4 linked regions of the Homo sapiens genome follow. The protein of the gene in region 3 purifies or fractionates together with the protein of the main gene of each other region. This does not show direct contact. Each region holds a gene or a part of one and is shown on either strand. Other genes may lie near its edges.

Region 1 (3,500 bases), on a different chromosome or scaffold from region 3:
TATTTCCATTTAAAAAGTGTTACATCAAAAAAGAAAAATAAATTACTTCTTTAAATTGGTTTTGTGCTAAGGATTAAGAAGTTGGGGGCAGATGAACATTTGTTTGCAGTGCTCTCTTTTTTTTTTTTTTTGCACAGAAACTGGATTTCTCGGTTTTCATTTACGTGTATTTGGCTTAAATGTGGCTCTTATGATAAAATAACGATAATTTATATTGCAAACACCATTTTTCTATGTATAGATATCTGTTTTGCATAATGCCTTTCATTCCTGTGATCCCAAGCATTTGACAAATAGAGTTAATAAATTGACGTAAAAACTATTCTAGGGGCCAGGTGTGGTGGCTAATGCCTGTAATCCCAGCACTTTTGGAGGCTAAGCCAGGCAGATCACTTGAGCCCAGTAGTCTAAGACAAGCCTGGGCAACGTGGTGAAACCCTGTCTCTACAAAAAATACAGAAATTAGCCAGATGTGGTGGTGTGTGCCTGTAGTACCAGTTACTCGAGAGGCTGAAGCAGGAGGATCGCTTGAGCCCAGGAGGTTGAGGCTGCAGTGAACCATGATTGTGCCACTGTATTCCAGCCTGGGCGACAGAGCAAGACCCTTTCTCAATGCCCCCCCCCACCCCCTCCCCCCACAAAAAAGAAAAACCATTCTAGGAAAGAGGGAAAAATGAGATCATGAAAGTTCCAGTCCTGGGCATACATGCCACTGTATTCCAGCCTGGGCGACAGAGCAAGACCCCTTCTCAATGCCCCACCCCCACCCCCTCCCCCCACAAAAAAGAAAAACCATTCTAGGAGAGAGGGAAAAATGAGATCATGAAAGTTCCAGTCCTGGGCATACATAGTCTTAGAAAGAAATGCAAGTTTCCAATAAAAGGAAAATTTATAGCATTTATTTAATAGCTCTGAATACTTTTAAATTATATTCTTTTGTCTAAGCTTTAAAATGGAAACATGGCTTAGAGAAACTGACTGCTATGGTTTGCCAGCTAGAAGCATATCAATTTCCAATCATTTGAAAAGTCACAGCTCTTAAAAATCATCAACACTTAACAAATATTGGCAAATAAGGCTGGCACTGGTTTTCTGTTAAACTTTATTGTTGTCCTGAAGAGAGAGAGCCAGGGTAGCAATGTATGATCCACATATAAAATTTATCATCAATGTGCAGAAATTCCAGCAGCTTACCTGAATATTGAGTTGCACCTTTTCCATCTCAACACCAAGGAATTTTGATCTTACATCGAAAATGCCTACATCTTCAGTAGCTATGATATCAAATGTAACATTCTTAAACCTGTGAAGAAAGGAACATTCATACATGAGAAATTACAAATACAGATGTGCTTAAAGCTGAAACAAACTAATGGAATCTCAAATAATCATTTTTAAATAATGGCTTGTTGAGAAAATCCTAAGGAAGTCACCAAAAACCTCACGTCATCTTTCCCCCAATTCTGCTCTCCAAACACTAGGTTTGATGGCTATTGTTGAGATCTGTAGCTCATAGAGTTCTGACATAGGTGCTTTATTACAAAAGAAATAGAAGATACGGTCCTTGCTCTTCAAGAGCATAAAACATAATTGGAAATATGTGAGTCACAGAACATGAACATTATTGACCTATAGCCAATTGAGTATTTCAGATGATAACTTTTATAGAAACTTCAGGCCAGGCGCAGTCGCTCACGCCTGTAATCCCAGCACTTTCAGAGGCCGAGGCGGGCGGATCACCTGGCCAACATGGTGAAACCCCATCTTTACTAAAAATACAAAAATTAGCTGGGCGGTGGCATGTGCCTGTAATCCCAGCTACTCGCGAGGCTGAGGCAGGAGAATCGCTTGAACCTGGGAGGTGGAGGTTGCAGTGAGCCAAGATCCCACCACTGCACTCCAGCCTGGGCCGCAGAGTGAGACTCCATCTCTGGAAGAAGCATTTTCTTCTGAGTTGGTGTTGTCAGGAGGTTTCATGGGATAAACAGAAGTCAGGCTTTGAAGGAAGGCAGGAGTTAAAGAAAAGGCAAATGCCAGTGAGTCTGGCTTCCCTTGAGATTTTAGGACAAGAAAGTGATGGAACACTGGGCTCATGACCCCTTTAAAAGGAGGCAGCACATGGTGCCTGATGTGGGGCTGTGAAGGAGGGTTTGTTTTTTCCACTACACCGAATACACACACTCACAGCATGCTTTGGAAATGGCTCTGATCCAGGGGTTGGCACAGCCTATTTTAAATGAGAAAGGTGCTATTTTGCAATGGTAGATAATTCATCCATCAAGACCAAAAGACAGCCTTTTACTCTCATTGCTATGACTCAGTTCTGGAGGTTCACCAATCCAAACATATTGCACAAGCCACGGGAAAGACAACCACTGATCAACACTACATATGACTGACAGCACCAGATGCTGAGGCCAAGGGAAGAGTAGCCATAACAATTTGTGTATTCTTCCCTTGTCACCCATCAGTAATTGAGGTTAAGCCTTGCTAGACCAAATGGAGCTCTCTCCAAGGCCACAAGAAATCAAATGGCATGCGTGTTCTATGCAGATTCCAGGTCACACTTACTGGTTTGTTTGAAGATCATCTATATCTAGCAGGACACCTTTCTCATGCAGCTTTGCTGCAGTGTACTTCACTGGCTTCGCTCTCTTCGCCCCTTTGGGTTCTCCTTTTCCATCTAGTTTAATTGATCTCCGAGTATTTCTGACAAAATAAGAACAGAACATTTGTTGTTATGATGGCAAATGCAGAGGCTTCTGGTAGTGCGATTACCATACTCAGAGTGACATCGCTGTTCATACCTGGCCCTCAGAGCGCTGAATATACACTTTTTTATTTTGTGATAGTAGGTAATTTTGTCCATAGAGTGCAACTTCACTACTAAACTGTTTGTGGGGAAAGGGATTTCCCAAGTGACTGAAGTTTGCATTACAGACTAACATTTTTAATAAAACTTACACTCTATTTTCTCAGGTATATTGAACCAAGTGGCTATCTTTAGTCATTTCAGAAGTAGCTTTGGTGCAATAACATGAACTGTGTATTCCTAGATAACGATATTACTAGGACTGTTTTAATCTATTTAACAAACACTATGTGGCTAGCATTGTTCTAAGTGCCTTATAAATATTACCTCACATTTCCAAAATTAACATTTCCATAGTACTTTTAAACTAATAAATTCCTTTGCTATATACTATATCATGTAGCTCTCATAACCATACTTGTGAGTCTGGTACTCTTTGCTTTTTTGGGGGGAGGTTTTTTGTTTTGTTTTGAGATGGAATCTTGCTCTATTGCCCAGGCTGGAGTGCAGTGGCGTGATCTTGGCTCACTGCAACCTCTGCCTCCCGGGTTCAAGTGATTCTCCTGCCTCAACCTCCAGCTGGGATTACAGGCACATGCCACCACATCCGGCGAATTTTTGTATTTTTAGAGGAGAAGGAGTTTCGCCACGTCAGCCAAGCTGGTGAGGCTGGTACTCTTAATTCCAC
Region 2 (3,500 bases), on a different chromosome or scaffold from region 3:
ATTTCTATAGTTTGTTACTAGATAGAGAAGTTTCTCTGAATGTGTAGAACACCAGGGGGAAAGAAAACCTTAATTTTAAAAATGTTCAAGATACTTTGAAATGCCTGTCAGTTTGGTTAACGTTAATAGAAGGTACAGTTGACCCTTGAGCAATGTGGGGGTTAGGGGTGCTGGTTCTGCAGGCAGTCAGAAGTTTGCATATAACTTTTGACTCCCCAACAACTTAACTACTAATAGCCTACTGTTGACTGGAAGTCTTACTGATAACATAATTATCAGTTAACACATATTTTGGGTGTTAAATGTATTATATCCTGTATTCTTACAATAAAGAAAAGGAAATGTTATCAAGAAAATTATAAGGAAGAGAAAATAATTGACTCTTCATTAATTGGAAGTGGATTATCATAAAGGTCTTCATCTTCATAGTTTTCATGTTGAGTGGGCTGAAAAGGAGGGATTGTCTTACTGTCTGGGAGTGGCAGAGGCAGAAGTATATTCAAGTATAAGTGGATCCACACAGTTTAATCCTGTGTTCAGGGTCAACTATATAAAACAAGTGCCAGGAAAATATCTATTGTAAAAACCTTTCTTTATCCTAGCAGTTTATACAGGGATCTCTAGATACTTAGTTTTTGTAAGCAAGTAAATTTATTTTCCTAACATTGTCCTAACAGACTTCCTACAAACTAAATTGAAAAGAAATAGGAAAGCTTTTTTTCTCTTTTTTTAAGCACATTAAAATGAAATTCTGCTCTTTGTTTTGTTATGCACATGGGAATACATTCATTCATTTTCCCAACAATTACAGACTACCTACTACTGTGCTGGATCCTGGGTGGTCATATAGATCAATAATACATGTTTGAAGCTATTATGTAATGGAGGAAACCAGATAATAGCAATACAGAATTGTAATTGCTGTGAGAAAGCCATGCACATAGTGCTGTGGAATCACAGAGGGCAGCTAACTCTGGTTTAGCAGTGCAAGAAAGCTTCCCCAAAATAGAATTGATCTGAATCTCAAAGGATGAGAAGGAGTTAGCCAGACTACAACAGTAGGTTTGGGGATAGGAAGAGGTCATGTAAAACACTGAGACCTATTTAAATAAAGCATTTGTATAATATCTCATTAATCGAGATTTCCCAATTTGTAATTTGTCATAGAAAATAGTCTGCAATTTCTCTTGTTTCATGCAAATATATTAAGTCCTCACTTAACATCCCTTGTGGTTCTTGGAAACTAACCTTTGGCAAACTGACAATAAAGTTGTTTCACTGTAACACTGATAAGGAGGAAAATTGTTTTCATTATAGGTTGTTTCAACTAAAATCAGTTAAAATCGAAGTTTCCAAGAACCTATCATTGAAAATTAAGTGAGGACTTAAAAGATTTGTTAAGGATATGTAAGGTAAGTGTTAGTTTAGGGGCCATATTCAACTTAGTAGAATGAAACTTATTCAAGTACTTAGGAAGAACATCCTAATATAAAATATATGGAAGTTGACTAACTAGTAAATAGGTTGTTCAGCATAGATTAAATTCTCTTTTTTTTGTTGTTGTTGTTTTGAGACAGTCTCACTGCAACCTCTGCCTCCCGGGTTCAAGCAGTTCTCTGCCTCAGCCTCCCAAGTAGCTGGGATTACAGGCACCTGCCACCATGACTGGCTAATTTTTGTATTTTTAGTAGAGTCAGGGCTTCACCGTTTGAACTCCTGACCTCGTGATCCACCCTCCTTTGCCTCCCAAAGTGCTGGGATTACAGGCATGAGCCACTGCGCCTGGCCCATAGATTAAATTCTTTGTGAGGCCAAGATTGTAGCTTTGATCTTCATATGGGGTGTTTAGAGGTATTCCATTTTGTGGCCACAAAGTATATTTGTAATCCTAGCCGGCTATCATGAATATTTTATTGGTCACAGGAAGAACCAGCTAAGAACATATGAATAGATCAGTGCAATACTGTCATCATCCTGGAATAACTTGATGCTGTTATATTAAAATCTTGTTAATGGCTGTCAGTTTTGCAACCTAAACTAGTAACACACTGAATTATTGATTTGCTTATGTGTTAATGGCACATAAAGCAATGAGCATTAACACTTGAAGTTTTTCGGTAGTATCATTTTTGTGTATGGAGACTGTATCTGCCATTTTTTCACAATAGGAAGGTTTGTTACTGTATCTTCACAGATGATTGGTTAAGATTGCTTTCCAAAGTCACATTTATTCTCACCTTCACATGGTGTTTTAATGAGCACTTATGAAACTAAATATGAACCATAAAGAGTGGATTGGACTGATTAAATTGAGAGTAATTATGCAGTTTAATCAGTTGGTAATATTGAATCATATGTATTTTTATGTTTAGAGTACAGGATTGTTTTAAATTGTTCTTTTTGACAAGTTGAGATTAGTAGTTTATTGTCAAATAGTAAAGAGATAGCTAATGATTGTGATATACTGTAATAAGATCTATCACTTTATATGATACATTATAAGTTTCAATTATTTCATTTTTGTCAGGCTAAATCTCATTTGCTTTCTCTCCATGAGATATACTTGAGGCAGCAGAAAGAGCAGGTGGGAAGTTAAAGCAACTCATTTAACTGGCCTTTAGGAAAGAAAATGTTTAGATTGACTCAATTTTCTAGTTATCTATTCATCTTATTTAAAATTCCAACCTGCTCTACTCCTTACTCAGGTCTGTTTTGTTTTAATCACACTTAGTACTTTCTAACATAGTATAAATAGTGATTACGTTTGCCTGTCTCCCTTCCCCATTCCTACCCTTGCTAGAATGTAAGGTCCTTAAAGGCAGAGATTCTAATTTAATCTTTTGTCTTCACTGTGTCCCAGAAGCCTAGAATAGTTTTCAGCACATAGTAGATACCCAATAAGGTTAAATTAGTGGTCTCAAATGCTAATACATTTTCAACCTTCTTATAGAAAGAACATACTGGTCGTCTTGTTATAGGAGATCACAAATCAACATCTCACTTCCGAACCGGTAAGAAAGTAAAGTGTAATTAAAATGGAAGTGCTAAATTCAGAATATGAAGTATGTGTTCATGTTTCAGGATATTCTACTTTGGCATGTAATTGTGTAAATTATTAAAATATTATAATTAGAGCTGGGTGCAGTGGCTTAATGCCTGTAATCCCGGTTATTTGGGAGGTTAAAGTGGGAGGATCACTTAAGCCCAGGAGTTTGAGGCTGCAATGAAGCTATGATTGCACCACTGCATTCCAGCCTGGGCTACAGAGCAAGACCTCATCTCTTAAATTTAAAAAAAAAAAGGAGAGAAAAAAATGCTGGGCACCTTGGCTTATGCTTGTAATCCCAGCATTTTGGGAGGCTGAGGTGGGCCGATCACTTGAGGCAAATCACCAGCCTGGTCAACATGGCAAAACCGTGTCTCTACTAAAAAAAAAAAAAAAAAAAAAATTAGCCTGGTGTGGTGGCTCACACCTGTAATCCCAGCTGCTTGGGAGGCTG
Region 3 (3,500 bases):
TTTCCTTTTTTTTTTTTTTTTTTTTTTTTTTTGAGACAGAGCCTCCTTCTATTGCCCAGGCTGGAGTGCAGTGGTACGATCTCGGCTCATTGCAACCTCCACCTCCTGGGTTCAAACGATTCTCCTGCCTCAGCCTCCTGAGTACTTGGGATTACAGGCATGCACCACTATGCCTGGCTAATTTTTGTATTTTTTAGTAGAGATGGGGTTTCACCATGTTGGCCAGGCTGGTCTCGGACTCCTGACCTCAAGTGATCCACCCACCTTGGCCTCCCAAAGTGCTGGGATTATAGGCATGAGCCACTGCGCCAGGCCTATTGGCCTCTTTTATTTGCATTGCTGCCTCTTTCTGTCACTGACCACCCCACCATCTCCCCCTCCCACTGGTCCTATCCTATTTCCCCTCTCCCTATGGCACCCTCTTAGCTGGTGTGGGGGGGCAGGACTCCCCAGCCCAGGTTCCCTGGCTCCCATCCAATGCCTGGCCTGGCCGGGGTGACCTTTGCAGTGACAGGCTCCCTGTCAGAGCTCCAGATTAGCTATGTCTGCCGGGAAGTGCTCCAGGTAAGGAGAGGCCTGGGGATTCTGGGGATGGGAGGGGAGGGTGGCCCCACTCCAGCCCCCAAACACTCACTGTCCCCTTGTCCACCCTTCTCCCCAGGGACTGGCCTATTTGCACTCACAGAAGAAGATACACAGGGACATCAAGGTGGTCTGGGGGTGTAGGGGTGCTGTTGGGGGGTGGGGCCCAGGAGATGGGAGTGGCATTTCAGGGGCTCAGGGATCAGGGTAGTTTGAGCTGGCGGAGTGGGCTAGCACTGGGCTGGGGAGAGTCTCTGCAGCCTCCCATATCCCCTCTCATTCCCAGGGAGCTAACATCCTCATCAATGATGCTGGGGAGGTCAGATTGGGTGAGTAAGGCTGGGGGTTGAGCAGGGGGGCTGACTGGGGGGCCGGAAGCGCAGTGGACCCCAGATCACTATGTCTCCCTCTGCTTCCAGCTGACTTTGGCATCTCGGCCCAGATTGGGGCTACACTGGCCAGACGCCTCTCTTTCATTGGGACACCCTACTGGTGAGTGGCGCCCAGCGGGCAGCTAGGGGTGGAGTGGGGGTCAGTGGTTTTTCCTACCCTGGTTCCCCGGGATCCTCTTTCCTGGCTCCGTTCCCCTGCCTCGTCCTTTCTCCTTGGAAGATTCTTTCATTCTCTCTGGGTGTCGCTTGAGTTTTCCATTTTCCTCTCTCTTTGTGCCCTTTTCTGGCCATTGCTCTCGGTGTTTGTGTTGATTTTTATCTTGATTTCTCTGTCCCTCCATATCCATTTCTGTCTTTTTCCTCTAGCTCAGTTTGCAGTGCTCTCTGTCTCTTTGTTTCTGTCTCTCTCACTCTCTGTCTCTGCCTCTCTGTCTTTTCATTTTGTTTTGTTTTTAGAGACAGGGTCTCACTCTGTGGCCCAGGCTGGATTGCAGTGGCATAGTCACGGCTCACTGCAGCCTAGAACTCCTGGGCTCAGGAGATCCTCCCACCTCAGCCTCCCAAGTAGCTGGGACCACAGGTGTGCACCATGACACCTGGCTAATTTTTAAAATTTGTGTAGAGATGGTGTTGTTTTTTTTTTTTTTTCTTTTTCGTTCTTTTTTTTTTTCTTGAGACGGAGTTTTGCTCTGTTGCCCAGGCTGGAGTGCAGTGGCATGGTCTCAGCTCACTGCAACCTTCACCTCCCAGGTTCAAGCAATTCTCCTGCCTCAGCCACCAAGTAGCTGGGATTACAGACGCCTGCCACCACGCCCGGCTAATTTTTGTACTTTTAGTAGAGACGGGCTTTCACCATGTTGGTCAGGCTGGTCTCGAACTCCTCACCTCAGGTGATCTGTCCGCCTTGACCTCCCAAAGTGCTGGAATTACAGGCAAAAGCCACCGTGCCCAGCCGAGATAGGGTCTTGATAAGTTGCCCAGGCTGGTCTCAAACTCCTGGGCCTAAGCCATTCTCCTTGCTCAGCCTCCCAAAGTGCTGGGATTACAGGCGTGAGCCATCGCGCCCCGTCTGCATCTCTGTCTTCATCTGCCTGTGTCTGTCTTTACTCCTGTCCCTCTGTCTCTCCATCTGACTCTCTGTGTGCTGCGTCTCCCCTCAACTCCTTCTCCTTCTCTGCCCCTCCTTCCCTTCCTGTCCCCATGCCACCTCTGGCTCTCTGAGCGTGTCTGCCCCCAGGATGGCTCCGGAAGTGGCAGCTGTGGCCCTGAAGGGAGGATACAATGAGCTGTGTGACATCTGGTCCCTGGGCATCACGGCCATCGAACTGGCCGAGCTACAGCCACCGCTCTTTGATGTGCACCCTCTCAGGTAGGCAGGCGTGGGGTCCCCAGGCCCAGAGATCCTGTCTAGCCCTGGCCCAAAGCCCACCCTCAGCTTCCGCCTTCCATCCCAGGAACCTCCAATTCAGGGATCACCACTTGAGCCTACCTTTGCACGTGCTGCAGCTCTATTTTTTAAATTTAATTTAATATTTTATTTTATTTTATTTTTTATTTTTTAAGACAGAGTCTTGCTCTGTTGCCCAGGCTGGAGTGCAGTGGCACAATCTTGGCTCACTGCAACCTCCATCTCCTGGGTTCAAGCTATTTTCCTGCCTCAGCCTCCCGAGTAGCTGAGGCTGCAGGTGTGCACCACCACGCCCGGCTAATTTTTGTATTTTTAGTAGAGACGGGGTTTCAACATGTTGGCCAGGGTAGTCTCGAACTCCTGACCTCAGGTTATCTGCCCATCTTGGCTTCCGGAGGTGCTGGGATTACAGGCGTGAACCACTGCACCCAGCCTATTTATTTATTTTTATTTTTATTTATTTATTTATTTTTGAGATGGAGTCCCACTCTTGTTGCCCAGGCTGGAGTGCAGTGGCAAGATCTCAGCTCACTGCAACCTCTGCCTCCAGGGTTCAAGTGATTCTACCACCTCAACCTCCCAAGTGTGGGATTACAGGTGCACGCCACCATGCCTGGCTAATTTTTGTATGTTTTGGTAGAGACGGGGTTTCACTATGTTGACCAGGCTGGTCTTGAACTCCTGACCTCAAGTGATCCACTTGCCTTGGCCTCCCAAAATGCTGGGATTAAAGGTGTGAGCCACCACGCCCAGACATTTTTTAAATTAATTAATTAATTCTTATTATTTTTAGAGACAGGATCTGGCTCTGTCACCCAGGCTGGAGTGCAGCGGCACGATCGTAGTTCACTTCAGCCTTGAATGCCGGGGCTCAAATGATCCTCCTGCCTTAGCCTCTCACATAGCTGGTCCTACAGACCCATATTGCCACACCCAGCTATTTAAAAAAAAAATTTTTTTTTTGTCTCACTATGTTGCCCCAGCTGGTCTCCAACTCCTGGGCTCAAGCTATCCTCCCGCCTTGGCCTCCCAAAGTGTTGGGATTACGGGCGTGAACCACCACACCTGGCCTTGCCATAGCTCTATCACTTCATAAATGGCTTCCCTTAGGAGAGGCA
Region 4 (3,500 bases), on a different chromosome or scaffold from region 3:
GCGGATCACCTGAGGTCAGGAGTTCGAGACCAGCCTGGCCAACATGGTAAAACCCCGTTTCTACTAAAAATACAAAAATTAGCCAGGTGCAGTGGCAGGCGCTTGTAATCGCAGCTACTTGGGAGGCTGAGGCAGGAGAATTGCTTGAACCTGGGAGGCAGAGGTTGCAGTGAGCCGAGACTGTACCATTGCACACCAGCCTGGGCAACAAGAGTGAAACTCTGTCGCCAAAAAAAAAAAATAATGGTGATGGCTACACAATGTTATAAATATTAATGCCAATATTGTAAATATTAGTGCCACTGAATTGTACACTTTTAAATGGTTAAAGTGGCAAATTTTGTTTATATATATATTATTTTTACTGCAATAAAAGTTTTTAGTGTGATATAAATAAAACAATTTTCTAAATTAAAAAATGAGATTTATTTTTATATTGTAAATATTTTTATATTATAAATGCTTAGTTTTTAATGTTTTACTAATATCTTAATCAACCTATATACTTGGGGCATTTAATTTTTAACAGTAATGGATAGAAGCTTATACTTCAAGTAGTAGCAGTAGTCTTGATGATTTAAAAGAATTTTTTTTTGGCTGATGTTGTCAGATATAATAGATTGTTTTTAACCTGTGGCTGCTGAGGAGCTCACTAAGAACAGAAGCTGGCTAGGCGTGGTGGCTCGCACCTGTAATCCTAGGACTTGTCTGAGGTTGGTGGATCCCTTGAGGCCAGGAGTTCAAGACCAGCCTGACCAACATACCGAAACCCTGTCTCTACCAAAAATACAAAAATTAGCCAGGCGTGGTGGCTCACACCGGTAGTCCCAGCTACTCAGGAGGCTGAGGCAGGAGAATCACTTAAGCCAAGGAGGCGGAGGTTGCAGTGAGCTGAATCATGCCACTGTACTCCAGCCTGGGCGACAGAGTAAGACTCTGTCTCAAAAAAAAAAAAAAAAAAGTTTATTTTCTGACATTTTTATGTTTATTTGCACTTGTGTTAATAGAAGTATTTTCTTAATTTTTTAAGTTACCTTCCCATATTGTGAAGATTTGTTTATGTAAATTTAATGCTACCTGTATTCAACTACCTGTACATCTCACCTGCATAACTCTCATTTCAAACCTGTAATTGTTTTAGTAAAAAAAATGTTATTTATAGAAGTTTACTTTGCTGTTACAAGAAGATTTATTTTTCAGGTGCACGAGAAACAGACTACCCTGCAGGAGAAGATCTTTCAGAATCTGGTCAGGTAGACAAAGCATCTTTATGTGGAAGTATGACAAGCAACAGCTCAGCAGAGACAGACAGCCTGTTAGGAGGCATCACAGTGGTTGGTTGTTCTGCAGAAGGTGTGACGGGAGCTGCCACTTCCCCTAGTACAAATGGTGCTTCTCCAGTGATGGATAAACCACCAGGTATATCCATTCTCTTTACCTGCCATCTGTATAGAGTCTAAGGCTACACTCAGATGCCTCATTATGGACTTAATTTAGATCTTAAGTAACAAGGTTGAAAGAACTTGAAAGAAGATACTGTAGGCCGGGCGTGGTGGCTCACGCCTGTAATCCCAGCACTCTGGGAGGCCAAGGCGGGTGGATCACGAGGTCAGGAGATCAAGACCATCCTGGCTAACACAGTGAAACCCTGTCTGTACTAAAAAGTACAAAAAATTAACCGGGCGTGGTGGCGGGTGCCTGTAGTCCCAGCTACTCGGGAGGCTGAGGCAGGAGAATGGCGTGAACCTGGGAGGTGGAGCTTGCAGTGAGCCAAGATCACGCCGCCGCACTCCAGCCTGGGCAACAGAGCAAGACTCTGTCTCAAAAAAAAAAAAAATGCTGTAATGACTGTTAAATGGAATGAAGAATTCTTAATTTCATGGTACAGTGTGAAGGAGTGGGTAGATGGAATGGAATTCTATAACAGGGGTTTGTGTGGGGAAATAATTGGAGGAGAAAAGCCCAGACTTGGAATAGTGTTTTATTTACTTTGTAGAAATGGAAGCAGAAAATAGTGAGGTTGATGAAAATGTTCCAACAGCAGAAGAAGCAACTGAAGCTACAGAAGGGAATGCGGGGTCAGCTGAAGACACAGTGGACATCTCCCAAACTGGCGTCTACACAGAGCATGTCTTTACAGATCCTTTGGGAGTTCAGATCCCAGAAGACCTCTCCCCAGTGTATCAGTCGAGGTATAATAATGGGTCATCAACTTAGGCAACTGGGTGAAGTGCACAAATAAAAGGAACCAAAATAATCTCAAACAGTCAAAAGATTTCCACTAATTAGTGTCACTGTGGTGGATTAAAAGATACCTATTCTTGTGATAATTTCATGTATTCCCGCTCCATCATTCTCGCTGGATATTCCCCCCCATTTCTTCTGTACACCTTCCAATTTAAAAAAAAAATCTTATCTATAAAAGTATAATCATGCATCAGTCAACAATGGGGATATGTTCTGAGAAATGTGTCATTAGGTGATTTCATCATTGTGTGAACATCATAGAGTGCATTTACACAAATCTAGATGGTATGGCTTATCACACACCTAGGCCATATGGTATAGCCCATTGCTCCTAGGCTAGAAACCTGTACAGCATGTTACTGTACTGAATACTGTAGATAATTGGAACATAACGGTAAGTATTTGTGTATGTAAACATGCACAAGGTACTGTAGAAATATAGTAGTATAATCTTGTGGAACCACCACCATATATTCTGTCCATCATTTTCCAAAATGGTTTTACCAGGTGTGTGACTATATATTAGTCAAAATCTTTCTGTTCATTTTCTCCTCTGATCTGTTTTTTTTTCTTTTTTTTTGTACTTACTGTCTTCCATTCTATAAGTAATTCTTTGTCATTTTAATCCCACCCCTACTCTAATTTTCACTCCAGTTATCAGCAAAATTGGCCATTGTTTAAATCTGCCATTGTACAAGTTTCCCACATGGGTGTGGATGACCTTTTTGAATTTAGTTTTCATGCAAATATTTTATTAAAAAACAACTCAGATAGTTCCAGTGGCTCATGCCTATAATCCCAGCACTTTGGGAGTCTGAGCAGGAGGATTGCTTGAGTCCAGGAGTTCAAGACCAACCTGAGCAACATAGTGAGACCCTCATCTCTACAAAAAACTTAATGATTCGCTGGGCGTGGTAGCGTGCACCTATGGTCCCAGCTACTCAGGAGGCTGAGGTGGGAGGATTGCTTGAGCCCTGGGAGCTGGAGGCTACAGTGGGCCATGATATCACCACTGCACTGCCGCCTGGGAAACAGAACAAGACTCTGTCTCAGAAAACAAACAAACCAAAGAAAACTGTTTGTTTTAGGCTCCTCCGTTAAAGGGTTGGTTAATCTAGGCCCATTTAGTGAATTATTTTATTTTCTTTCCTGCCTTTTCTAGATCCCCTCTAGATGAGAGTCTCTTTAAACTAGATCCTTTTTAAAGTTTAATATTCTTAGTGTATAAAGTAAGAAAGATTAATTAATAACCC

Evidence for each region. Proteins that work in one complex are often made in the same cells at the same time.
Region 1: the proteins of MAP4K1 (region 3) and IQGAP2 purify together in Homo sapiens (affinity purification with mass spectrometry; one large-scale study listed by BioGRID and IntAct). This does not show direct contact.
Region 2: the proteins of MAP4K1 (region 3) and C11orf58 purify together in Homo sapiens (affinity purification with mass spectrometry, with the first as the bait; one study listed by BioGRID). This does not show direct contact.
Region 4: the proteins of MAP4K1 (region 3) and SPAG9 purify together in Homo sapiens (affinity purification with mass spectrometry; one large-scale study listed by BioGRID and IntAct). This does not show direct contact.

Annotation. Positions count from the first base shown.
Region 1 is NC_000005.10:76,700,285-76,703,784, reverse strand, and holds part of IQGAP2 (ras GTPase-activating-like protein IQGAP2), read right to left. Parts: intron 2,710-3,500; coding exon 2,572-2,709; intron 1,304-2,571; coding exon 1,195-1,303; intron 1-1,194. UniProt on the Homo sapiens protein: Binds to activated CDC42 and RAC1 but does not seem to stimulate their GTPase activity. Associates with calmodulin.
Region 2 is NC_000011.10:16,745,147-16,748,646, forward strand, and holds part of C11orf58 (small acidic protein), read left to right. Parts: intron 1-2,950; coding exon 2,951-3,011; intron 3,012-3,500.
Region 3 is NC_000019.10:38,611,454-38,614,953, reverse strand, and holds part of MAP4K1 (mitogen-activated protein kinase kinase kinase kinase 1), read left to right. Parts: intron 1-508; coding exon 509-564; intron 565-661; coding exon 662-709; intron 710-868; coding exon 869-911; intron 912-1,001; coding exon 1,002-1,074; intron 1,075-2,211; coding exon 2,212-2,343; intron 2,344-3,500. UniProt on the Homo sapiens protein: Serine/threonine-protein kinase, which plays a role in the response to environmental stress. Appears to act upstream of the JUN N-terminal pathway.
Region 4 is NC_000017.11:50,988,369-50,991,868, reverse strand, and holds part of SPAG9 (C-Jun-amino-terminal kinase-interacting protein 4), read left to right. Parts: intron 1-1,200; coding exon 1,201-1,419; intron 1,420-1,996; coding exon 1,997-2,192; intron 2,193-3,500. UniProt on the Homo sapiens protein: The JNK-interacting protein (JIP) group of scaffold proteins selectively mediates JNK signaling by aggregating specific components of the MAPK cascade to form a functional JNK signaling module.